Linked DNA regions of Homo sapiens. The protein of the gene in region 1 interacts with the protein of each later gene in a pairwise test. Each region holds a gene or a part of one and is shown on either strand. Other genes may lie near its edges.

Evidence for each region.
Region 2: the proteins of COX20 (region 1) and CHIA interact in binary tests that used the Homo sapiens proteins (3 or more experiments, as listed by UniProt).
Region 3: the proteins of COX20 (region 1) and TEX44 interact in binary tests that used the Homo sapiens proteins (3 or more experiments, as listed by UniProt).
Region 4: the proteins of COX20 (region 1) and GOLT1A interact in binary tests that used the Homo sapiens proteins (3 or more experiments, as listed by UniProt).

What each region holds. Positions count from the first base shown.
Region 1 is NC_000001.11:244,838,653-244,845,594, reverse strand, and holds the end of COX20 (cytochrome c oxidase assembly protein COX20, mitochondrial), read right to left. Parts: intron 3,652-6,942; coding exon 3,537-3,651; intron 3,401-3,536; coding exon 3,337-3,400; intron 2,555-3,336; coding exon 2,419-2,554; 3' UTR 538-2,418; downstream 1-537. UniProt on the Homo sapiens protein: Essential for the assembly of the mitochondrial respiratory chain complex IV (CIV), also known as cytochrome c oxidase.
Region 2 is NC_000001.11:111,307,851-111,314,850, reverse strand, and holds part of CHIA (acidic mammalian chitinase isoform c precursor), read right to left. Parts: intron 4,452-7,000; 5' UTR 4,384-4,451; coding exon 4,359-4,383; intron 3,163-4,358; coding exon 3,133-3,162; intron 2,662-3,132; coding exon 2,460-2,661; intron 312-2,459; coding exon 255-311; intron 1-254.
Region 3 is NC_000002.12:231,588,370-231,594,785, reverse strand, and holds TEX44 (testis-expressed protein 44), read right to left. Parts: upstream 1,923-6,416; 5' UTR 1,835-1,922; coding exon 647-1,834; 3' UTR 510-646; downstream 1-509.
Region 4 is NC_000001.11:204,203,956-204,210,997, forward strand, and holds part of GOLT1A (vesicle transport protein GOT1A), read right to left. Parts: intron 1-7,042. UniProt on the Homo sapiens protein: May be involved in fusion of ER-derived transport vesicles with the Golgi complex.

The DNA.
Region 1 (6,942 bases):
CATTGAAGGTTTGGCAAAAAACTAAATAGTTTGGACGTGAAGTTGGATGGTAGGGTAGACATTGATAGGAGAGACTTTCGTTCTACCAGTCTCTCCTTATTGAGGGTGGGTGTTACAGACTTTGGTAATTTATTAATACACTTGTAAAATCTTAATAGCATAAGAATAAAAATTATTAGTGATCATGTAAATACATGAAACATTTAAAAAATAATCCAACCAAATATGTTACAACTTTGTTTTTATCCAGGTTTCCAGTTTATGCAAACTTCTGTGAAAATGAGCTTTGTTATTGGTGAAGACATTGGAAATTTTACCAGCCAAAACAGAGTTTCTCTCTTATTCAGGGTAAGATGTAATTGCAGTGTGCTAGCGCTGGAAGGGACCTGTTTTATATGTTATGTATGTTACACGTCAGCCCTCCATGTCCTCCAGTTCTGCATCCTTGGATTCAACCAACTGTGGGTTGAAAATACTGGAGGTAAAAAGACAAAAAATAACAATGAAGAACAACAACAAAAATACACAGTATAATAATTACATTTACATAGCATTTATTTTGTATTAGACATTATAAGTAATCTAGAGATGATTTAAAGTATATGGGAGAATGTATGTAGATTATATGGAAATATGAGGGTATTTTATTTAAAGGGACTTGGGCCTGTGGATACCAAGGAATAACTAAGGTAAAACTGAGCATAAGTGGCCTGTCCATATTTTGTTAAATATCAGATTATTGATTAGTGATCATCAACATTTTCCCGCATTCATGCAGTGCGGCCTCTGAAAACATGGTTGAACATCCTATGGAATTTTTTTTTTTTTTTGAGATGGAGTCTCACTCTGTCACCTAGGCTAGAGTGCAATGGCGCGATCTTGGCTTACTGCAACCTCCGCCTGCCCCACCTCGGGTTCAAGTGATTCTCCTGCCTCAGCCTCCTGAGTACCTGGGACTACAGGCATGCACCACCACGCCCGGCTAATTTTTGTATTTTTAGACGAGACAGGGTTTCACCCTGTTGGCCAGGCTGGTCTCAAACTCCTAACCTCAGGTGATCCAACTGCCTCGGCCTCCCAAAGTGCTGGGATTACAGGTATGAGCCACCGTGCCCAGCAGAATTTTTTAACTATTTGGTTACGACTAATTTGGATAATGTAGTGCATGCAGCTTTGATTTGTGCCACTAAGAGTGGGCAAACTGTCTTCCTTTTTGTGAATCAGTAAAAATTTTCCCTCAACATGTGTTTGACAGTTGTCATTCACTGCTAAGTTAAGGCATTTGGTAAACCACACAGCCTCTGCATCCTTCCTAGCGACAGCCACAAGAAAAGGTGGGCATGGGAGGGAAAATGCTCTTGTGAATTGAACTGGAGGCAAGCTCCACTTTTCTTTAGAAAAAGATGTAGATCAAAATAACTAATATTTTCTTCCTTGCTCGATTTCTGTGCCTTCCATGGTACATCAAAATAATAGGACCAGTAATGGCCACAATCCTGTTGACTGCTGTTACCTTCGCCCCAATATTTCTTTAAGCATTTCTTAAGCATCTAGCTTGTGTTTTGTTATATTTAACAGATTTTCTTAAAGTATTGTATGAATTAAAACCAGAAATAACTTCATTTTCCTAGAAAGGGATAATTTCTCCCGGAGAATAAATCCTGAGGATTTAGTTAGATGCTGTGGGTATTGTATTTTAAATAATATTTTAATGGGAGCAGCTGATTGACTTTCAAATGGATTGTTTACATTAATAGTAATTCTGCAGTTGTTTTACTATTGCATCAGTCTGCCAGACAAGTTCCATGTGCATATTTTAATTCAGAACTAATTATACTTAAAAATTTAAACCCTGCATACTTCCCCAAAAATGTTTAGGGCAGTTAAAAACAACTCTTTTGGAAGATGACTCGCATTTTAAGAAATGAGAGAACACTGTCAAATGATGAATGCATTTAAAAAATAATTTGCAAAGTGATAAAAGCCCTTAGTTTTAAATCTTACAATGACATTAGCTCTTACAAGAACTCAGTAAGTATTTGCTGTTTTTTAATGGGATAGTAATAAGGTTGAGGTTTTTGTTAAGGGACGTTTACTTATCATCAAACTCTATACTTACTACTACAAGGAAACTCCAAGTACATTAAACACTATGTTTTATAATTCTTTGCCACACTGCCAATAAATTCTGTTCACATTTTAAGGATGACAAGTCCACTATATGTAACACGTAAGAATGCTATCCTGGCAGTAGACACAGGGCCAGAATAAACTGGCAAGTTTTCATTCCACACAAGTGTGGGAAAAAAATGACTACAACTTAAACTTTATTTACTTGATTGAGAGCTTATTGCACATGAAATGTTTTATGTGGTTGATCTTAACTTCGTTTACATTGACTTCTATGCTCAAGATTGTTCAATTGCTGCTGCTGCCGTTGTGTTTTCTTTCAGGATCGAGGTGGGTACCTTCATATAATATCTTCTTTTTAATTTCTTCTCTGGCAATTCTTTCCTGGATTCTTTGCTTTGCATAATTATACCTACAATGAAACCTTAGAAGAAAAGAATATGAATAAATTGTTAATATAAAGTCCTACAGAAATTAATTTATGAAATTTCTCTAAATCACACAAAACTTAAATACAGATGACTACTACCCTGAGACTGAAAAATATGTTCTAATTTATAGTGCTATTTTTGGGCAGTTTTGGTGTCAGAATACCTATCAACACATTCTTTTTTTATTAGGAAAAAAAGGATGTCTACATAACAATTTGTAAAGTGATAAAATCCATTAGTTTTTAAGTCTTCTGATAGCATTGGCTATTATAAGAAACAAGTATTTGCTCTCGTTTTTAACGGGATAATAATGCTATGTCTACATAAAATGATTTCTACCACCTTAAATAGCTCACTGTAGAAATTCATGTATAAATGGAACCATATAGTACATACATATCATACTCTTAGGTCTGGCAAATATTTGAGGTTCATCCATATTTTATATTCACTCATCAGTAGTTGTAAACACATTCTTAAAGTAGCATTTTCAGATATGAATAAGCAGGGATGAAATAAGTATTAGGGTAAGGGAAATGGTTGAGGCTTTCCTAAGTGAAGTGTAAAAACCACAGCTTTCTTTTTAATGGGATGTCTAATATGCATTTATCTGTTCAAGCATTTTAAGATTTCCATGAAAATGTCCTGAAAAATCAAGATTCTTCATTGAGGGTGAGGATCTCCCAATGGGAGACTGCTCTGAAAAGAGCATGTGCTTTTTGAATTAGATAACCTACTATAATCATGGATGTTCTTGAATACTTAGCAAACATACCAGCATCCCAAAGTCACCAAGATAAACCCTCCTACTCCAACATCACATGATCTTCTAATTCTACCTGTAAAAATAAGCATAACAATTAATTAGAATATAATTACGTTATATACATTACTCCACCTAGAAAAAAAAATAGTTCATTATGTAGAGAAATGCTTTTTTTAGTACATAGAGAAATAAAAAATACAGATACTCACTAGTGAACAAAAAATGTCCAAAGCCAGCCACAACAGATCCTAATGAACCATACAATATTGAATGCCGGGCGCAGGGAGTATTTTCAACATCTAAAAATCCTAGGAGCTTAAGGGACTAGAATGAAAAAAAAGAACCTAGATTGAGTAAGAAAGTATTTCATTTTGGGGTGCTTTGGCAAAAATGACAATACACCATTTCTTTTCTTGTAGTTGAGGGTTTAAACTAGAGTATGTGCCACGTGACAACCTAAATCAGCTTGCGTTGTCTTTGTCCACCTTTGGTATGCAGTCTGAATCTTTAAATCCGAAAACCTTACAAATTGGACCGGAAAACCCTTAAGCAGTAGGGTAACTTGGAGCTGTATCTTAATTTGCTAATCAACTGACTTGGAAATAGGATAATTCATTTTATGAGCTCTTTAAATGAGTTTATTTGGGAATATGCCTATCATTGGAATTGAAAGCAGCATAGCTTGCTTCAGTAACTCCAATAATTTGGGAAGCAGAAATGGAAAAAGTAATTTGAGTCATGTTTGCTTATGTAGTGCCGTTTAAAATTCCCCTAGTAATTACCTTTCATATTTTATTAACTAGGTTAACATCAACTGTGGTTGTAAGAGTAAATGTTTCACCTTAAGATAAACATGGGCAATATATTAAACTCTAGTCTGTTTTCTTGCCTGTGAAGTGAGGCTGCACTTGATTATATTTGATTCTTTGTTCGTAATACATGGGAACGACAGCTAAGTGTGGTGAAAAACGCGGGGATCCAAAGAGCTGGATTTTTATCTCAGATCTGCCGCTAACTTTTGTATCCTATAGGCTACTTTTATTTCTATGGTCTCAATCTATAACATGAATGGGTTGGGTTAAATGACTGAAGTTCCTTCAAGTGCTAAAATTCTTTTTCTACAGTCTTCATTGGATTTATGTATTTCTTATTCCTAATATGTTTAACTGGGATGTCTGTCACTCTAGGGCGGCAAGACAGACATTTAAAAGTAACAGTCACACTGCTGAACTGGCATTTCTGTTAACACAAAAGTTTAGAAAACTCACGGTAACTGTTACTTGATTTAAGTGTATATAAAATTTTCAGTAAGGCTGCTTTTAAAAGGAACCACTGTCCATTTAAAGGTTTCATAGTTATCTTCAATGGGTTAGTATTGTTTGGGGCAGGACATTAAACTAGAAGGGATTCTATAGGATGAGGTGATACCTAGAAGGTAATATATTGTAAGGCAAAAGAGATTAGAAGAAATGGGGAAAGGATAGTAAAAGGCAAGTCAGATTAAAGGTTGAAACATGAAGATATTCTCAATTGTATTTCTGCCTATGTTTGCTTTTTTGGCTCAAGCATCTGTTGGAAGAGACAAAATGTGACTTGGTTCATAATAAAGCAAGAATTATTTACTCTCGGATCATTCTATTCCATTTTTTCCCTCTGTCTGGCCCCGTTCCCACCCGCATGCCTAACATAGGATTGCTTCAAAGCTTTGCAGTACAGTTCTTCACATTACCAAGAGGTTGGGGGATTTCATTTAGCAAGACGACTTTTTCCTATCAGCTTGAGAGCCCAGGGGACATATGATCATGTGGGTAGTGTTATGCAGGTGAGGAATGCTGGACTTAGCGCTCCAGTCCAGGACTACCTCTAAACTAGACTATTTCCCCAAGGATGGGATGCTGGGGCCAGAGGATTAGTACCAGTTTGATCTAGTCTTAGGTGCAAAGATGCAAGTGTGAGACCAGCTTGTACCACAGGATAGAATTAAGTATTTTCTAGTCCCACTCTCAGATTCTGATTTACAATCACTGGAATCTATGTTTAGAAAACTCTAGGTGGTTTTTTCTGATGACTGTCATATTGGGGAAACACTGCTTTAGGAAATTTTATTTTTTTAAATAAAAGTAAATTTGCAAACAATAGGAAAATAGCTCAGCTGACTTTAAAGGCAAATATCTAAATAGAAGCTACACATCTTATTTAAAATAGTGCCTTCTGAAACAAACCCAATCCCCAACAAAACTCTGGTCTAAAATAATAGTGGTTGATCTCATAATTAAGAGCTGCTGGTGGGGGAGGTAGGTATTAGTGCCAGGCTCTCTACATGTTTTTTAATTCTCTAGCCTTTGTGTGAGATTACCTCTGAAACAGGCTCGGGGACTTAAGAGGCTAATAATAAGTGTTGGCAGGAGTGGAGGCAGAAGTCAGTTTCACCACAAAGCCTATGACATTTTCATTGTGCCAAACCACATCATTAAGAAGTAACCAAGGCTGGAGGGTTTGGTGGGGAGCTTTCCAGTTGTCACATATCTAAGGAGTAATAAGATTCAGTACATAAATCCCTGCAATTTCTATCAAAACAGGAAGAATATGCAACGACTTGAGCCTGTATACCTTTACAGTTAAGTACACTGAACTGTAAAATGCTCAGAAGTGGAGATGAATAAAGGATCCCGGGCATAACTCCCTTTGAAGTATTCTATTTATATACGGAAATATTCTGTTCATAATATACATGCCTTTAACATTTCTCTTCTATTCCTTAAGTAGCCTGCATACTTAAGATTTAACTCTTTGCCACTAACAAACGGGAACCCTTAAAAATAAATTAAGGAAATGTCAGACATTTTTTAAGCTTAGATTTAGAAAAGCAGCTTTACCAGCTCACCCTGATCAATCTAAGGAAAGCTCAAGAGATTTCCAAGCCAGAATGTCAATAATGTATAGAAATAGATCTGATCAAATTAGAGACAGTTGATTTTCCACCACTAAATCTGCTTCAGTGCCCGTATTTCTTTCCTCTGGTTGCAAAGGATGAATTGGCCCTATTCCTATCTAATGCTAGTCTTCCCACTTGGGCACTTGATTCCCCTCTTGCATACTCAAGGGCTTGGCTTCTATAGCTACCCCTTTCATTTGCATCGTTAGTTTTTTCACTTGCAATAATTTACTATCAGCCCTCTTGGCCAGGTGCAGTGGCTCACCCGTCATCCCAGCACTTTGGGAGGCCAAAGTGGGTGGATCACTTGAGGTCGGAAGTTCGAGACCAGCCTGGCCAACATGGCAAAACCCTGTCTCTACTAAAAGTACAAAAATTAGCCAGGAATGGTAGCACATGCCTGTAATCCCAGCTACTCGGGAGGCTGAGGCAGAATCGCTTGAGCCCAGGAGGCGGAGGTTGCAGTGAGCCAAGATGGCACCACTGCACTCCAGCCTGGGCAACAGAGCAAGAAGACTCCATCTCAAAAAAAAAACCCAAAAATCCTCTATACACCCCTCTCCTCTCATCAGCCACCTAAACCACCATCCTTTTGGGGCAAAACTTCTGAGTGTAGGTGTGCTTTTCTACTTAAAACCTCCCATTCTCCCTTTAACTCACTTGAGTGAGGCATCTATCCA
Region 2 (7,000 bases), about 130 Mb from region 1:
GGTTGTTTGGGAACCTCAGTAAGTAAACCTCTGTGGATAGGGCCCCCAAATGTCCACCAAATTAAATGTATGAAATAAATTGTGTTCCACTTAATAATGAGGTTCTGGTGTAGCAATATATTTAATTCATATATTTGTTTATGTACATCCTCAATACCCTGTCTTAGATTGTGAAGTCTAAAGGGACAGTGATCACATGGGGCTAACTTGTTTTCCATAGCAAACGAACAACATGCTCTCCATAGAAGACTTACGGGGCAGTCCCGAAGTTCCAGCCTCCAATGGCCAGGAGAGTTTTCAGCTGGCTGTTCCTGTAAAACAAAGGATAGAAACAGATAAACTTCAAAAGTCAGGACTCCCTCCATTTAAAATACATTGCTTTAGTGTTGGATCTGGTCAGATATTTTTGTTTTGCCTTTTGTAGAACAATTTTCCTCCCCTACTGAAAACTTCCTTTATAAAAATTCTTTGTGTTGTTCCTGTCATGAATGCACTCAGGGTTCCCTAGGGAAATCTAAATTTTGAAACTGGGCTTTAAAAAATATTGTGTGTTGGCAGTATCTTTGATTGTGTAAGTTTAAAAAACATGAATAGCTAATATAATATTCTATTCTATCAGATAAAATGGTAAATGTTGCTTGAGCTTAATTACATTTTTAGCCTCTGTAATGTTAAAATAAATTAATTGGCTTGAAATTATACACATTCTCTTGAATAGAGATTCCCAAACATTAACATACATAATAATTAAGTGCAAGGGTTGTGGGAGGACAACATGAAAAATCTGGGTTTATCGCCCCTTCCCCTGAGATTCCAATTCGGTTGGATTGCAGTAGGGACTAACACTTACTCAGGTACCTCACATGATTTTGAGGCAAGTAGTCAATGGAGCACACTTCAAGAAACACTGCCGTAAAGGAGTTTATTTACTCTTAGTCATTGTAACTTAAATTCTAGTAGCTGTATTCACGATAATGCCATTACTGATAGTAGCAATCACCTGTAGCTTTCCTTCTCTTAAATATGACTAAACTGAACAAAGTCAACTCAGAATGGATTAAAGATCTAAATTTATGACCTCAAATTGTAAAACTACTGAAAGAAAACCTTAAAAAAAAGCTCCAAGAGCTACAGCAAGAATTTTTTGGATATGACTGGAAAGTGCAGCAACAAAAGCAAAAATAGACAAATGGGATTACATCAGGCTAAAAAGCTTTTGCATGACAAAGGAAACAGAGTGAAGAGACTACCTATGGAATGGGAGAAAATAGTTGGAAACCATATGTCAAGTAAGGAGTTAGTTAGTATCAAAAATATATAGGAAATTTATACAACTCAGTAGTAAGAAACCAAATAACCTGATTAAAAAATGGGCCAAGGACTTGAAAAGACATTTCTCAAAAGAAGACATACCAATGGTCAACAAGTGTATAAAAAATGCTCAACATCACTAATCATCAGAGAAATACATATCAAAATCAAATGAGATACCACTCAATCCGCTTAGAATGGCTGTTATCAAAAAGATGAAAGGTAAGTGTTGGAAAAGACATGGAAAAAAAAGGAACTCTTGCCCACTGTTGGTGGGAATGAACATTAGTATACCCATTATGGAAAATAGTATAGATGTTCCTCAAAAAATCAAAGAAATAACTACCATATGATCCAGCAGTTACACTACTGGGTTTACATCCAAAGGAAATGAAATCAGTGTGTTGAAGAGATATCTGAATTTCCATGTTCATTGCAGCACTATTCACAGTAGCTAAGATGTGGAATCAATCTAAGTGCCCCTCAATGGATGAATGGACAAAGAAAATGTGGTCTTTATATACAATGAATACTATTAAGTCTTAAAAAAGAGGCAGAAATCCTGTCATTTGCAGCAATATGGATAAACCTGGAGGATATTATGTTAAGTGAGATAAACCAGGCACAGAAAGACATATACCACATGATCTCACTTATAAGTGGAATCTAAAAGAAGTTGAACTCATAGAAGTATATAGTAGAATGGTCGTTAGCAGAGGCTGGGGGTGGTGTGGGGATGGGGGTTGGGGGGCATGTTGGTCAAAGGATACAAAATTTCAGTTAGAAATGAGGAATAAGTTGCAGAGGTCTATTGTACAACATGGTTACTATTGTTAGTAACAATATATTGTATTTTGAAAATTGCAAACAGTACATTTTAAGTGTTCTCACCACAAAAAACATTAAGTATTTGTGGAAATGCATATGTTGATAGTTCGATTGAGCCATTCCGCACCGTATACATATTTCAAAACATTACATTGTCCATAGTAAACACATACAATTTTTGTCAGTTATAAAAGAAAAATGAAATGCAGAGTCTTGGTCCCCATCTCAGATCCATGGATCTGAACTACATTTTAAGAAGCATTAATGTTTGGGAAGTACTGAAAAAGGGGATGCCAAATTAAATATCTCCCTCATCCTACTTATTTTTCAGGCCATTGAAAGCTTGGTAGAGAGTCACATCATTCCATTCGATGGTGGTGATCTCGTTGTTCTGCCTCCCAGCAAAGGCGTAGATCAGGTGGGTACAGAGGCAGGGGTCGATGTTGTCAGGCATGAAGCGCCCCAGGCCTGGCCGGTACTGGGCCCAGTTGGTGAAGTAGCATGTCAGCTGGTAGGCAGAGCCTGTGTGTAGTCAGCAGGAGGGACAATGGCCTGGTTTAGGATCCACTGAAGTGTGCTGTGAGTTTTGGCCTTGCCTCTGTTTCCCTCCCTGTGCCTCAGATGCCTGATCTCTGTGTGGAGGTAATTAGTATGAACACTCTTGCAAATGCATCCTAAGATTCTAACTCAGAACTGGTCACTAACTTGGAGTTGTTTATTTTTAACTTTCACAGACTCATTTTGGGATTTTGGATAAGCCTAGCTAGCAGCCTTCTAAGAAAAGATGCCCATAGTCCTATGAAGCCCAGTGAGTACCAGTTTATAATTCAGATGGTCATGCTGAAGAGGATAGCAGTGACAGCCAATCCAAAACACTAGATTACTCCCAAATCAAACCCATCTGTCTGTGAAGCAAACAGCGGCTCTCTTTCCATAGTATGGTTTATCTCGTATATATACATTCAATGATAAAACATGGAGTCCATGACTTACCGAGCTGCAAATTCAGTATAAGGACAAGACCTGGATAGAAAGAAAAAGCATGTACTTTGAACCGATTGTCTGTACCCCGTAGAATCTAATTCTGAAGGATTGATTGCCTTCCAATTTGCCATAAATTGTTACAACCTCAGTGAGATTTGGTGGTGATTCCAAAGGCTTTTCAGTGAATACAACAGTAGATCTACCTTTCCCCACCTTTATCAAAAATGACCGTGGTACCTTCGTCTCACACCTTTCTTGTCACAAATAAATGTTCCTGAATGCTGAGTCCGAAGTTTACTATCTATGGAAGATGTACTTACTGAAATCACCAACTGATCACTGTAGTCAATGATGACACATCCATTCGTTCTTCCCCTACCTGAGTGATAGAACACAGCCTTCCAACAGATAAGGCATCTGCTAAATCAGAGAATTCAGTATCTTCTGGCCTTTAGTGGTTTTTTGGAATGACTTTCAGGAGGCCTTATATGAGGAGAGAAGAGCTAGGAACTATGGGGTGAGACTCCAGATACCTTTCCCTGACTTCTACAAAGCAATTCTTCTACTCTGATTGTTTTATAAATTGAGCTTGAGGTTTCATTTGGAAAAGGTTCTGAAGCTTAAACAGTTTGCAAATCCCAGCTCTAGAGCAACTAATAAATTCTTGGTATGACTTGTCTCTAAACAACTTACTGAATCAACCTCTTTGAATAATTTAATTTCTAACATGTTTATGGTACATCATCAACTCAGTAGGATAATAGGGGAGTAAATAGAGAAATAATTCTGAAAACAGCAGAACAAAGACAACTTGCATAACTCTATCTCAGTTCCTACTGATTTTCTTCCCCAGAAAAGCTAGTCCAAGGACACAAGCAAATAAATAAACATTATTCCAATTAAAATGAGATGGCGTAGGAAGAAGAGTAAAGAAAAATGAATGGCTGAACAAAAGATGAAAGAGTAAGACTAGCACTAGGAGAAAGTATGCTTTTCCTTTAGGACCAGGTCCATGGGATTAACAAAAGCAGAAATGTTACCAGAGTCAGTTGAAGTTAAGAGAACAAGAGGCAGACTGATTTGTATATAACAAGATTCATTTGAAATTTGAAATGATGAAAGAAGAATGGAAAAGTATAGGGATGTAGTATGAAGACCACTTCATGATTTTCAGAGCCTGTGAGAGAAAAAGAAACTAGATAAGATGAAGGGTCAATCTCTGATTACAAACCCACCTGTGAGGAGAATAAGCTTTGTCATGGTTGCAGTCAGCACCAGTCCCGCAGAGCTTTTTATATGTTCTGATTCTGTGGTTATCACAAAGGCTTCTAAATAGAGAACAATTTGACCCAGATGTGTATGTAGTTAATCAGTAAATCAACGGACCTTCTCTTCTACAAACACCCTCCCAAGACCTTCAACCTACACCCTCCCACCACCAGCATCACCACCTTCTCTGCCCAACAAGGACAGAACAATGTCATGGCTCCTAACAGGGTGGTGGAGACCATCACCATGGAAAACACCAGTTTAATAGCTTTTTTGGCAGTTCCAAGGGCTGATAAGCAACTGTTTAGATACTGTGGTCAGATTTTCTATTGTGGACATTTTGTGTCTGGCATCAAAGCAAGTCTTTATGGAAAAATAAATAAAAAGAAACTTTGGAAGTTATTAGCTGTTCTTAAACCTTTTTTTCCTCATGGAATTATTCATATGTAATTTGTACAATCAGTGCCTAAGAAATCTTCCTTCTTTAGGTGCTACTCTCTCAATATTCTACTCACACATGTTCTTTGGAATGGCTTCAAGTCATGACTAAATGATAATTTTATCTAAGAATGTTTGGATCTCAAAATGTCCCCTATAAAGGTCACCAAGAACTCTCTAGTGTTCTGTAGTTTCAAATTACATCCCCTAAAAACTGCGTTGCTAATGGATAGAAATAATATAGATGATATTGAAATGAGTCTCTTCATAGAAATATTTGCAACTTGACCGTTTCTGGAACTTTGTATTTAAATTAACTCCAATCTACCCCTTCCAAACATAATTCACTACCATTGTTCTATAATACATTTCTCTTTTGGCCAAAGGACTATTCTTTGCCCTCAAACATGCCTTGCATGTCTTTGCTCAAGGTATCCCTCCACTCCTTGCCTGTAATGTCTTGCCTGCAGTGTCTCCTTATCCTCACTGCCTATCCCAATCTTAGCAGTTCTTCAAAGTCCAACTCAGATCTTTTCTATCTTAATGCTCTCTCCTTCTTTTGATTTACTTTATGTACTCTAGCACATATTTTCTGTATTGCTTATATGATGCTGTCTTGTGACAATACCAGGAATGCAGTTGGCGGGAATATGGGTGATCATTATGGGATTTCAGCACCTTAGCAGAGTTCTTGTGAGTCCAGACAGGTTTATCCATTTATCACATTTGGAAACTAAATTGTATCCATTCTTCCTGTGATTGGTAGGTTAAGTGTTTTGTTCTACTCTCAGAACCAGAGAAAGTCTAATAGAAGTGCTGCCAGGAAAAATTTTTATTTTATTTTAGTTCCAGGGTGCATGTGCAAGGTGTGCAGGTTTGTTACATAGGTAAACATGTGCCATGGTGGTTTGCTGTCCCTATTAACCCATCACCTAAATATTAAGCCCAGCATGCGTTAGCTATTTTTCCTGATGCTTTCCCTCGTGCCACCCCCACTGACAGGCCCTAGTGTGTGTTGTTCAGGGAACATTTCAATTGTGAAAATAATCATATCAACAAACACTACAAGTGCCTACTATGTGCCAGAGACTGTATTTGGTGCTTATATCACTTAGGCTTTAATTTTGTAAGCAATCAAAACCAACTCTAAGAAGCACAAATCAATATATTTGAAAGACATGAAGAAACTCACAGAATCAAAAAGAATACAGAACCTGCCTCTAATACAATAGAAACCAAGTCTTTCTATGGGGAGGGGTGTGGGAGGAAGGCTTAGGAGAAATAAACTCCAATTTTATTTTCCATCTATGAATGACAAGAATTAAATCCTGGGGAAAAAGCATATTGTTGTATGACACCAGACCCTCAATTAGGGAAAGGGCAGGGCACTTGGATTTACATTTTCACAAGGACTGGTCACAAAATGAAATTCTAAAAGAATAAAAAGTAAAGCTGAGTGACTAAAAAAAATGACTATCATCAGAGGGCTTGACTTTATTGTTTCTTTTACCCTATAAAGAGGATTATTACTATCACACCAATTTTGCTGATGAGAAAATTAATCAGCTATTAAACACCAGATCCAGATCCCTGTGTTAAGTACGCAAGCTTTTGGCCCAAGTTAAACTGAGTGAGGCATTTTCCCAAGGTAGTCAAGAGAATACAGTTGAGCCAAAGAGAATGTCAAATCAAAGTCAAGGATTTGCAAAAACAAACAGCAAAGCCAGTAGCTCCAGGTTTATCGTATTCAGGACTATAGGGTGTAGCTACCATTTATAGCTAGTGAGGTATTTTCTATTGAATTTGGCATCCCCAGTTCTAAATAAATGACATGACCTACAGATTAAACATTTCTTTTTAATAGCTCCTTAAGAGCCCCAGCAAACTTGCATCCCATCTGAGCACTTGGTTATTGGAAAGAATTACTGCGTTTATGAGTCATAGAATGAATAGTTTTAAACTGTGACCATGTGTATCCTTTTACATTATTGTTTTCAATAACCTTGTATTATTTTTAGTTTCTTTAATTGTAAAATCTACCATACACATGAGTTTAGGTATACATTTTAAGAAAAATATGGCCAAGCCTGGTGGCTCACACCTGTAATCCCAGCACTTTGGGAGGCCAAGGCGGGTGGATCACCTGAGGTCAGGAGTTTGAGACCAGCTG
Region 3 (6,416 bases), on another chromosome or scaffold:
TAATGGCAGCCACCATGTGTGGGCTTATCAAGTGCCAGACACCATGCATTATGGCCTGCATCGCTTCCCTTCTGTCTTATAACAGTGTCATGGTATGGATTTATTCTCTCCTTTCTACAGCTGAGTAGGCTGAGAGTGACGTGATTCGCCCAGGGCAAGTGCTGGCGCTGGGGTTTGAACCCACATGGTGTGACTCAGTACTGTCAACTGCACTGCCTCTTCTGCCTCTCAGCTTGAGCCCGCCAGGCCAGCCTAGGCCCCTGGGAAGGCTCCTCAGGAGCTTACCTGGGTGGAGGTTCAGTAGGGATGGGTTTTTGCAGGTCTGAGACACCCCCCGCCACACTGCCTCCAGCTCTGTCCAGGTTCTTCTCTGCACGTTTGCCCCCAGCCCCTGAATGGGACAGCCTGAGAAACCCTCAGGGGACGCTGTTTCCACCGCACCCCGAGCCCTCCTGTCCTGTCACCGTGTTGCTCACTGCACCCCAAGGGAGGAGGCTGGTGCTTAGAAATAAATGCTCACTGGTGATTTATTGCATGGGCTGGGGGAACCGTCCAGAGCAAGAATGGGCAAGGGAGCAGGGCGTGAGGGTCCCAGGGATCTCTGGAGGCCACTGAACCAGCCCTTCGGGGGTCCCTGTGCAGGGCTCTAATCATAGTTGGGGTCAGCCTGGGCCTGGCGTGGGGTGAGGTGGCTGGTCAGGTAGCGCATGGCTGAGCGGATGCCCTCCACGGTCCTCTGCTCCACTGTCTCCAGCACACGGGTGATGGTGCGCAGGGCTGAGCTGGTCCCTGACACCAGCCCAGAGGAGAAGGCCGAGCTGACGCTTCCCACCAGGCTGGGGACCGAGCGCAAGCTGGGCCCCGAGCTGTGCAGCAGGTCTGCCACAGTGCTGTGGCCGGAATCCAGGAAGCCTGTGGCTATGGCCATGCCCATGGTGGTCTCGGACCACACCAGGATGTCTGCCAGGGAGCTGATGGAGCCCTCGCCCCTGTCCAGCAGGCTGGTCATGGAGCGCATGTAGCTGTTCTCCTCACTGGCCGTGTACAGGCTGGAGTCCAGGGGCCTTCTCCCCAGGGCCACCTCGTGGGGGCCAGGCGACGGGGACACACTGCCTGCTGGAGGTGGAGGGAAGAACCAAGTCTGCAGGTCTCCTAAGCTGTCCACCACATTTGCCCCCATTGCCACTGGGGACTCATCAGATGGTAAAGCTTCAGCTTCAGGGTGTGGGGCCTTTGGATGCTCAGCTTTCTCCTCAGCAGACTTGGTGGTGCTGGCAGCCTGAGGGCCATGCTGGCCATTGGCACCTGCTGTGACATGGTCAGCATCACTCTCGACGGGCTGAGCCTCCATGTGCTGGGTGGACTGTAGCTCAGCACTCGGGGCAGAGGGGGCTGACTCCGGCTCTCTCTCAGGAACACTCGCCATTTGTGACATCTTGTCTTTACCCAGGAGGTGACTTGGGAAAACCACTAGACTCTGACTTGTCCTTGCGTCTTGAACCTGCCTGTCCCACGCTGGATTCTGAAGGCTCATAGACACTTGCAGGGGACTTGGATTTTGGCTGGGAAGCAGAGGTGTGATTTTTCTGGGTGTCTTCTGGCCGTGTTCTGGAACAACTGCACTCTTGTCTTTGTCTCCAGATGTTGATATGGCCCTGGGGGTGGCCGTCTTGAAGGAGGCCTGATCTATATCCTGCCAGTCAGTGGATGCGACAGAGCTGCTCACTGCCAAGACATCTGCTGTGAGTGGGACCTGACCTTGGGGCTCTCCTGCTGGGCTGTCCTTAGACCTGCTGTCATCCACGTTGCCCAGGGGGTACCCTGGGAGTGCCATGTATGGGGCTGCTGGTGGAGCCGGCCTCCCCCTAGGGCTCTCCTGTGGTCATCTATGCCCTTTGCTGCTTGTGGCGGTTGGAGGGAGTGGCTGCAACCCAGCTGGGCTGAGTTGTCCAAGTGGTGAGGTCACAAGGGACTGTGGCCACTGGTGATGTCACAGGTACCCATAGAGCAAGGGTCTTGAGCTTCTGGAGCAGCCTTCCAAGTGGGCTAAGTCTATGGGACAGTTTGTTGCCAACTTTGCAGGTACATAGGGAAAAAATGACAAATGTTCTTGAAAGGGCTGGAGGCGTGTGCACAGGGGCAAGTACAACCACAGGGACACAGGAGGAGTGACAGCTGTGACTCTGACAAATGAGAAGGGATGCAGATGTTGATTTAGAACAGTGTTTATAAGGGACCCCTCCTGGCACCTCTCTGTCTACACTGGTGCCTCAAGACCCCAATTTAGGCTGGGCATGGTGGCTCACTCCTGTAATCCCAGCACTCTGGGAGGCTGAGGTGGGGGGATCACCTGAGGTCAGGAGTTCGAGACCAGCCTGGCCAACATGGTGAAACCCTGTCTCTACTAAAAATGCAAAAAGTAGCCGGGCGTATTGGCGTGCACCTGTAATCCCAGCTACTGGGGAAGCTGAGGCAGAAGAATTGCTCGAACCCAGGGAGTGGAGGTTGCAGTGAGCCGAGATCGCACCATTGCACTCCAGCCTGGGCAAAAGCGTACTCCGTTTCAAAACAAATAAACAAACAAAACAACAACAACAACAAACAACAACAAATAACCACCCCCAATTTAGTCAGTGTTCCTGCAGGGAATCAGTTTCCCAGCAGTGGTGAGTAGGTATAAGCAAAAGCCAAGGGCCTGGGCAGCTCCATTTGTGGCTGTGGGTTTAACCCTTTTGATGTAGGGCAAAAATCTCTATCTTCTCCTTGCTCATCTGGACTAGAAGGGCAGAGAATAACAAAAGGTCTGCAGACCTCTGAGTGTTTCTTGGAGAAGGATAACCCCAGATACACCTACTTGTGCTTAGCTGGGCACGGTGGCTCATGCCTGTGATCCCAGCACTTTGGGAGGCTGAGGCGGGCAGATCATCTGAGGTCAGGAGTTTGAGACCAGCCTGACCAACATGGAGAAACCCCGTCTCTACTAAAAATACAAAATTAGCTGGGCGTGGTGGCACATGCCTGTAATCCCAGCTGCTCGGGAGGCTGAGGCAGGAGTATCGCTTGAACCCCGGGAGGCGGAGGTTGTGGTGAGCCGAGATCGCACCATCGCACTCCAGCCTGGGCAACAAGGGCGAAACTCTATCTCAAAAAAAAAAAAAAAAAATGCCTACATTAAGAAGATGTTTGGAGAGGAAGGCTCAGTCGGTCGTGTCTGTGCTTCTCCAGGGGTTATCAGCTAACATTTAGTGACTGCTTATGGGCAGAAAAGGGCGCATAGCATCCTTCTCATCACCCATCACCTCTGGGTAGGTACGGTTCTACTAGTATACTCAGTTTACACACAGGCATGCTGAGCCTCACAGAGAATAAGCGACTTACTCAAAGCCACACTATTAATAAGAGCTGAATCTGGGATTTGAACCCTGTCTGGCTTCAATACTAAGCTTTCCAGCACTCTCTCATACCCAGGAGGGATATTAAAAACGTTGAATGAGGGACTGGGCATGGTGGCTCATGCCTGTAATCCCAGAACTTTAAAAGGCCAAGGTGGGAGGATCGCTTGAGCCCAGGAGTTCAAGACCAGCCTGGGCAACGTAGTATGACCCTGTCTCTACAAAAAATAAAACAAAAATTAGCTGGGCATGGTGGTGTGCACCTGTAGCCCCAGCTACTGGGGAGGCTGAGGCCCAGGAGGAGGATTTCTTGAGCTCAGGAGTTCCAGGCTGCAGTGAGCTGTGATCACATCATTGCATCCCAGCCCGGGTGACGGAGCGAGATCCTGTGCCTTAAAAAAGAAAAAAGATATATCTAATGACTGGCATGGTAATGATGCTGGCAGATGCAGACAGAGGCCTCCCATTAGAACCGGTTCCACCACACCAGCAGGTGACAGCTGCTGCCAGTGCTGGGCTGCACCATCAGCAGCATGGTCATGAGTGTATGGAAAATTCCCCTCCCTGAAACTCTCTGCCCTTGTCCTCTATCCTGCTGCCTCTCCGGGCTGGCTCCCTCCCTCCTCCACCTCTCCCAGGATCAGGCCTTCCCTTCACACTCCTTTTACTGACTCCGCCCAGCCAGCCTCCACCTTAACCCTCTGAGGCTGGCGGCACTACTGACACCAGGCTCCTTGCTCACTAAGTGTTTATTTTCCCCGCAGATACCCTGCCGCCACCTCAGAGGTCACAGGGCAAACCCAGGCTTGTTGGAGTGTGAGGGGCCGATGAGTACAGCCTGTAGCTTGTAAAGGAGTCCTGGAGAGAATGGTGGCTGCCCATCCCAGATGACCTTCTTCCTTAGTGTCAGACAATTGCTAAATAGAAATTATAGGAGGCTACTGCTTCGGATGAGGCTCCTGCACCAGGCCCCAGCAGACTGGACTAAACGTCAAGATGGGGTCACTCACACTGAGGTTCCAAATCACCGGGAGACAGAGATGATTGCCAGTTTCCCAAATGGGCCAGTTTCTTTTTTCTTTTTTTTTTTTTTTGAGGTAGAGTCTTGCTCTGTTGCCTTGGTTGGAGTGCAGTGGCGTGATCTCAGCTCACTGCAACCTCTGCCTCCCGGGTTCAAGCGATTCTTTTTCCTCAGCTCAAGCTGGTCTCGAACTCCTGGCCTCAGGTGATCCACCCATCTCAGCCTCCCAAAGTGCTGGGATTACAGATGTGAGCCATCTCGCCCGGTATTTTTTTTTTTTTTTTTGAGACAGCATCTTGCTCTGTGGCCTTGGCTGGAGTTCAGTGTGTGATCCCAACTCCGAGCTGAAGCAATTCTCTTACTTCAGCCTCCCAAGTAGCTGGGAATACAGGCACATTCTAGCACACCTAGTTAATTTTGTTTTTACTTTTTGTAAAGATGGAATTTCACCATGTTGCCCAGGCTGGTCCCGAACTCCTGGGCTCAAGGAATCTGCCCACTTCAGCCTCCCAAAGTGCTGACATGACAGAAACAGGCCAGTTTCAATCTTCAAGTGGCACGATAATGAAGTTCCCTCCGTTTTAATTTTTTTTCTTCTGTCTTGAACTCCTGGGCTCAAGCACTCCTCCAGCCTCAGCCTCCTGAGTAGCTGGGACTATAGGTACGTGCCAACATGTCCGGCTATTTTTTAAATTCTTTGTAGAGATGGGATTTCGCCATGTTGCTCAGCTTGGTTTCTAACTCCTGGGCTCAAGCGAACCTCTCACCTCCCAAGTGCTGGGATTATAGGTGTGAGCCACTGCACCTAGCCTGGTTTTTGTTTTTAGTTTCTGCTTTTTTCCACCCTCTTCCTGTCTATAAAGCCAACTTTCACTGCTTGATTCATTGGAACCCTTATTCTATTTTAGGAAATCAAGTGTTGCCTGATTCTAGAATCACAAAGCCAATTGAGAGCTTTAAACTAAACTTGTAATTTTGTCTTTTGACACTTAGTGTCAGGACCCTGATTTTATTCAGGGCCTCTGTGTCTTAGCTAAAAGAACACATTTCCCAGCCTCCTTTGCAGGTAGGTAAGAACATGTGACCATGTTCTGGCCATTGAGAAGTAAGCAGAAAGTATTGAGTCGAACTTCAGAAAGGATCCTTCAAAGAGTTTAACATCTTTTTGCTCTTCCCCCTATCAGGAATGTGAAGGCTGGAGCAACAGCAACCCTCTTGGTCCAGCAAGAGGACTGGTCTAGCAACCCTCTAGGTAATCTTGAGGGTGGAAGGCACACAGTAAGAGGGTGGACCAAGCAAGGATGGAAGGACCCTGGGTCCCATGATTGGAGCTGTCCGGCAGCCACCAGACCAGACTATCGCCAACCTCTCAAATTCCTTTATGTGAGGGAAAATAACACTATATGTGCCCAAATGATTATTTTTGGTTTTCTATTACATGCAGCTAAACGTAATCCTAATCCAATTCTAACAGTTATGAGATCCCTGTCAAGTGGTTGGTCCGTGTTTGCTTGAATATCTTCCAGTCCTAAACAATCAAGAGTAGCATATGGCACTGAGTGTCAGTAGGCCTGACGCTGGGCAGGGGTTATTTCCCCATTTTTCAGATGAGGAAACTGAGGCTTAGAGAAGCCAAGCACATAGCAAGGTCAGTGGCATCTGCCTGACTCCAAAGCCCCACACCCCACACAGCTCCCTGCTTTTAGTTAGAAAGTTCTCCCCGCTCCCTATCTTTACCCAGGAAATAAAAACCTATATATGACTTAATTTTTTTTTTTTTTTGAGATGGAATCTCACTCTGTCACCCAGGCTGGAGTGCAGTGGCACGATCTCAGTTCACTGCAACCTCCGGCCCCCGGGTTCAAGCGATTCTCCTGCCTCAGCCTTCCAAGTAGCCGGGATTACAGGCGCCTGTCACCGAGCCTGGCTAATTTTTGTATTTTTAGTAGAGACGGGGTTTCACCATCTTGGCCAGGCTGGTCTTGAACTCCTGACCCGTGATC
Region 4 (7,042 bases), about 41 Mb from region 1:
AGGGCTACATTTTTGACATTTTGATAAACATATTTCAGATCGCTCCCCTCAAGACGATTTGTACAATAACCGGATATATAGTTCCTTTTTTCCTTAACCCTCTCCAGCACTCAGAATTGTTCATTTTACTTATCTTTGCCACTATGATAGTCAATAAATAAAAATTCATTCTGTTGCTTTGTTTTTAAATTGTTACCTTTTTAAGTTTTAAATTGTGGCAACGTGCACATAAAATGAGACTTACCATCTAACCATTTAAAAATGTACAGTTCAGTGGTATTAAGCGCATCTCCTGAATTCTTCGTCTTGCAAAGCTGAAACTCTACACCCATTAAACAGTAGCTCCCCATTCCCCTCCCACCAGCCTCCAACAACCACCATTTTACTTTCTCTATGAATTTTTGACTACTCTGGGAACCTCCTATAAGTGGAATCATACAATATTTGTCTTTTTGTGACTGTCTTATTTCACTTATCATAACGTTCTCAAGGTTCCTTCATGTTGTAGCATGTGTCTGAATTTTCTTCCTTTTTAAAACAGAATAATAGTCCATTGCTATCTGTACCCTGCATTTTGTTGATCCATTCATCTGTTGATGGACATCTGGGTGGCTTCCATCCATCTCTTACCTATTGTAAATAGTGTTACCATAAATATGAGCATAAGAAAATATCTCTTCAAGACACTGCTTCCGATCCTTTCAGGTATATACCCCACAAAGTGGAATTAACGGAATTATACTGGATCACATGGTAATTCTATTTTTAATTCTTTGAGGAATTGCCATTTTGTTTTCCATTGTGACTGCACCATTTAACATTCCCAGCAACAGTACACAAGAGTTCTAATTTCTCCACATCTTGCCAATACTTTATCTGTTTTGTTTTGTTTTGATAGCAGCCATGCTAATGGGTATAAGGTAGTATACATTGTGGTTTTGACTTACATTTCCCTAATGATTAATGATTAATGATCTTTTCATGTGCTTGTTAGCTATGTGTATATCTTCTTTGGAGAATTGTCTAGTTAAGTCCTTTGCCTATTTTTTAAACAGGTTGTTCTTTTTGTTGTTGAGTTGTAGGAGTTCTTTATATATTTTGGATATTAACTATGTAGCGTATGATTTGCAAATATTTCCTCCCACTCTGTAGGTTACCTTTCAGTCTGTTGACTGTGTCCTTTGATGCGGTGAAGTTTTAAATTTTGATGTAGTCTGATTGATGTCTTTTTTTTCTTTTGTTGTCTGTGCTTTTCATGTCATAACCTAGAAATCATTATCAAATCCAGTGCTGTAATGCTTTCCCCTATTTTTTATTCTAAGAGTTTTATAGTTTTAGCTCTTATTTTTAGGGCTTTGATCTGCTTTGAGTTACTTTTTGCAGATAGTATAAGGTAAGGATCCACCTGCATCTTTTGCATGTGGATATCCAGTTTTCCCAGCACTATCTGTTGGAAAGACTGTTCTTTCCCCATTTCATGGTCTTGATGCCCTCGTCAAAAATTTTACTGGACTTGTTAGAATCAGTTCTCATAACCTCTATGAAATTGGTATTATTATTATGCTTTTGCAGATAGTTGTTAAAAGTGAGGGGAAAAATTATTCTGGTGTTTAGAGGCAGAATTGTAAAAACAAAAACAAAATTATCAAGACTAGATTTACTGGCTGAGTTTTATTTACAACTGAAAGAAAATGAAACAACATAATCATCTTCTGGGTAGTTAATCCATCATCTGTTGCTATGCAGATTTTAAGAGGATTAGGATCAATTCCAATACAGAAAAAAGGTCAAAGAGCTTCTTTAAAAGAATCATCAAAAATACAGCAATGAAGCCAGGTGCTCAATGGCTCACACCTGTAATCCCAGCACTTTGGGAGGCTGATGTGGGTGGATCACTTGAAGTCAGGAGTTCAAGGCCAGCCTGGCCAACATGGTGAAACCCCGTCTCTACTAAAAATACAAAAATTAGCTGGACATGGTGGCATGCGTCTCTAGTCCCAGCTACGTGGGAGGCTGAGGCAGGAGAATTGCTTGAACCCGGGAGGTGGAGGTTGCAGTGAGCCGAGATTATGCCACTGCACTCCAGCCTGGGTAACAAGAGCAAAACTCCATCTCAAAAAAAAAGAAAACAGAAAAATACAGTGATAAGATCTAGCATTCAAATTATAGACTGAAACCTTGCTCAACTCATAGTCTGGTATCATGCCAGTCTTACTGGATCTCACTTTTGGCAGAAGCTGGATTTTGTTGGGACCCAGTGTAACATAATTTCTCTCAACATATCACCCAGCTGCCCAGAATCCATTTTCTACTAAAAGCTGATTCCTTGTGTTCCTGACAAGCCTCGTGATCTATTTGGGCTTGTTTCCTACTTCTACCTCCTCCTGCTGGCCTGAATTAAATCTCTTAGAAGCTGGGACAGCTCAGCAGAATATCACCCCCATGGGTCATGATGAAGGTTGTGTTTTGTCAACATTTCCATCCTCAGAGACAACACATTGAGAATCTAGAGTTACATCTACCTGAATTACCAAGATAATTTCGTGTAGGTCAGAATATTGTGGAGGAAGACCACAGTCATCTTTCTTTAACCCAAATGATAAAAGTGTTTTAGGTTTTTATGCTTGTTATAAAATATCTGTTGTTGGCTTATGCCTGCCATAAAAACATCTGTCATTGATTTCAGCTCTGACTATACACCCTTTCCTCCCCCTCAGTAGGTGTATTTGTGTGGAAACACGATGTGCACATTTTACGGGGTTTTCATTTCGTTTTGTTGAACTTTCTATATGTTCATCCTGCACACACTTAAGAACAGCCTCATACTCATTTTGTGGAAACAGCGTAAGTTTCTCACATTCACACATGATGTCCATTCTCCTGTTTATTCCTTCTTCTTCTGCAGCAGTGATTTGCTGGCTGCCATAGTTATCCCTCCTCCACCTGTTCTACACTCTTCTTTAAGGGCAGATGCAATTCCAGGACTCTCCTGTGATGGGGGCAGCCTTCTTTATGGGCCACACTTAGTGCTCTCAGTGCTCAGTGGGACACGAAACCCCACAGAAAAGGGTCAGAAACTCTGTTTCTCACACACAAGCTTCAGACCCGCCTTTGCCTCTTGCTTCTGGAGTAGCTTAGCTATTTTAGTCAAGTTATCCAGCCAGAGGTTACTCCTAAAGTTCTTTTCAGGCAGCAACCATGGCAGAAAGAGTGGAGGGGTGGGGATGTCATACAGATGCCCCCAGGAGTGACAGGTGTGCCTGCCCGGCACGGTCCCCGTGATCCAGACAGATTGGGCAGCGCGCCCTCTGCTGGAGGCGGCCAGGGCTGTCACGCCTACACCCAGCCGAAAAAAGCTGGGAGGCCAAGGTAACTTCAGGGAGGCCCGGCTCTCCAGGCGCCACCTAGAAGTGGAGACCTCCCCAGACCTCAGAGACCAGCTTTAGATCTCCCTGGCAAGGTACACTGATGGCTGCACTGGTGCCCTTGTTTAGCTCCTTGCTCTGCAACTCCCGAGTTGCTGCCAAGAAGAGCCCATGGCCACCCGATACGGACAAGCCAGGCTTCCCTGACTCCCCATTTTGTGGCTCACTTTAAGAAAAGCCAGGTTCAATGTCTTTCTTGCTCCAGAAATCAGCTACAGCTCCAAGAAAACAATATCTCATGGAGCAGGCAGATGAGTCCTTCTGGCCTCAGGCACGCAGTGAGTCTCAGAACATCATCGTCTTTTTTCCCCCTTTTCCTTTTCTTAAAGCAATCACACATGTACAGGAAACTTGCAAGTACAGTACAAAGAATATTTTTCTTGAACCATTTGAAAGTAGTTGCCACCTCATACCTCATCACCCCTGAATGCTCTGGTGTGGTTTTTAAAACTCCTGGACACTAAGGACATGAATAGACAATTCTCAAAAGAAGATATACAAACAGCCAACAAACATGAAAAAATGCCCAACATCACTAATGATCAGGGAAGTGCAAATCAAAACCACAATGTGATACCACCTTACTCCTGCAAGAATGGCCATAATCAAAAAACAAACAAACAAAAATAAATGTTGGCGTGGATGTGGTGAACAGGGAACACTTCTACACTGCTGGTGGGAATGTAAACTAGAATAGCCACTATGGAAAACAGTGTGGAGATTCCTTAAAGAACTAAAAGTAGAACTACCATTTCATCCAGCAATCCCACTACTGGGTATCTCCCCGGAGGAAAATAAATCATTATACGGAAAAGATACTTGCACATGCCTGTTTCTAGCAGCACAGTTTGGAATTGCAAAAATATGAAACCAGCCCAAATGCCCATTAGTCAATGAGTGTATAAATAAATTGTGATGTGTATATATATACACACACATATACATATATATGTATACATATATACACACATGTATGTATATATGTGTGTATCTATACACATATACACACATATGTATACATATATGTATATATGTATACATATGTGTATATGTATACATATGTGTGTATATATGTATACTTGTGTGTGTGTGTGTGTATATATATATATATATATATATATAAAAAATGAACTACTACTCAGTCACAAAAAGGAATGAAATAATGGCATTCGCAGCAACCTGGATGGAATTGGAGATCATTATTCTAAGTGAAGTGACTCCGGAATGGAAAAGCAAACATCATATGTTTTCACTCACAAGTGGGAGCTAAGCAATGAGGATGCAAAGGCATAAGAATGATACAATAGACTTTGGGGACTCATGGGAAAGGGTAGGAGGGGCTGAAGGATACAAGACTACACATTGGGTACAATGTACACTGCTCGGGTGATGGGTGCACCAAAATCTCAGAAATCACACTAAAGAACTTATTCATGTAACCAACCACCTGTTCCCCAAAAACCTATTGAAATAAACAAGCAAACAAAAAATTCTCCTAAACAGCCAACATACAGCCATCAAAATTGGGACACTAACATTGATATGTGACTATCCTCCAACCCTCAGACTCCATTTAAGTTTCATCAGTTACTCCAGTAGCATCATTTATAGCAAAATAATCCAGTTCATCATTCTGTGTGGTATTTAATGATCATGTCTCTTTAAACTCTTCTGTCTGGAACAGCTCCTTGGTCTTTCCTTGGCATGACCTTGACACTTTTGAAGATTCAGGCCACTTATTCTGTAGCCATCCCTCCATTTGGGTTTGTCGGATGTTTCCTCACGACTAGCTTCAGGTTATGCATCTTAGGCAGAAATAGCACAAGATGTGATGCTGTATTTTTCTCACTGCATCCTGGTAGGTGGTGCAAGATGTCAATTTGCCCCATAGCTGATAATGTTTCTTTATTCTTAAGGCAGTATCTGCCAGGCCCCTCACCACCCCATCCCTGACCCTGCAGGGGATGCTTTGCCTATGATACTTTGTACCAGGCCACCCCTAGTGTGAACACCCTTCTCACCCTGCTGGGGTTCTAACACCCCACTCTGGGCACCGCCTTCTCTGTGTTAAACCTAATGGCTTTAAGACTGAATTGTTCAGGAAGAGGAAGGAGGGAAATAAGGAGAGAAAGAGCCTCATTCACTTTTTAAAATTAGCAATAGTGATTGATAGTGTAATGAACATACTGGGCCAGGCACAGTCTAAGCACATATATGCTTTAAGTATATTAACACATTTAATTTTCATAACTACCTGTGACATAGGTACTACTATTAGCACCATTTCACAAACAAAACTGAAACACAGAGGTTAAGTCACTTGCCTGGGGATACACAGCAGCTGGCAGAAGCAGGATTTGAACTTAGTCTTGAGCTCCAAACAGTGCCTTTTGGGCAGGCACGGTGGTTTACACCTATAATCCCAACACTTTGGGACGCCGAGGTGGGTGGATCATCACCTGAGGTCAGGAGTTCGAGACCAGCCTGGCCAACATGATGAAACCCCGTCTCTACTAAAAATACAAAAAATTAGCCGGTGAGGTGGCGGGCACTTGTAATCCCAGCTACTTGGGAGGCTGAGGCAGGAGAATCGCTTGAACCCGGGAGGCAGAGGTTGCAGTGAGCCAAGATCATGCCATTGCACTCTAGCCTGGGCAACAAGAGTGAAACTCCATCTCAAAAACCAAAAACAAAACAAAACAAAAAATAAAAAGTGCCTTTAACCAACCCAGTCCAGTCCACTTCTGCAGGCAATGCTCTTGCCTTGGCCATTAATGACCTTCATGTTACCAGATCCAATGGGCAGGTGTGAACCATCATCTGTTAGAACTGACCACTGCCGTGTTGAAACAGCCTTTCTCTTGGTTTGTGCACAACACGTTCTTGATTTTCTTCCTACTGCTCTAACTGCCCTTTCTCTGTCTCCTCTGCCAGCTCCTACTTCTCTCTCTTCTTCTTGGGATTTGAATTGCACAGGGCTTGTGCCCAAGCTCACTTCTCTTCTCATTCTATTTCCACATGTATTCCCATGTGTTTATTTTTGTTTTTAATTTTGTCTTAAAGCTGGGATCTCGCTCTGTTGCCTAGGCTGGAGTGCAATGGCACAATCATAGCTCACTGCAGCCTTGAACTCCTGGGCTCAAGGGATCCTTCTACCTCAGTCTCCTGAGTAGCTGGGACTACAGGCACTTGGCCACCATGCCCAGCTAATTTTTTAAAATTGGTTTAAATTTTTTTGTTGTTGAGACAGGGGTTTTGCAATGTGCTCAGGCTGGTCTTGAACTCCTGGCCTCAAGCGATCCTCCCAAAGTGCTGAGATTACAGGCATGAGCCACCACACCCAGCCTCTCACGTCTTCAAACCTCCCTTGTATGCTGATGACACTGATGTCTCTCTTTCTAGTCCATGCCTCTCTTTGGGCTTTGAAACTCATATCTAGCTGCTTACTTGGCATATCTGCCTGGTTTTCTCTCAGCCATCTTGAACTGGGCTAATCTTCAATCCCAAACTGGTCTATTTATCTTCCCTCCTTCAACTTGTGCCTCCCTTGGTTGTCCTCAAATGAGTAAACATGTCACCACCGCCCACCCCACCACTTAACGCAGAAGCCCACCCCT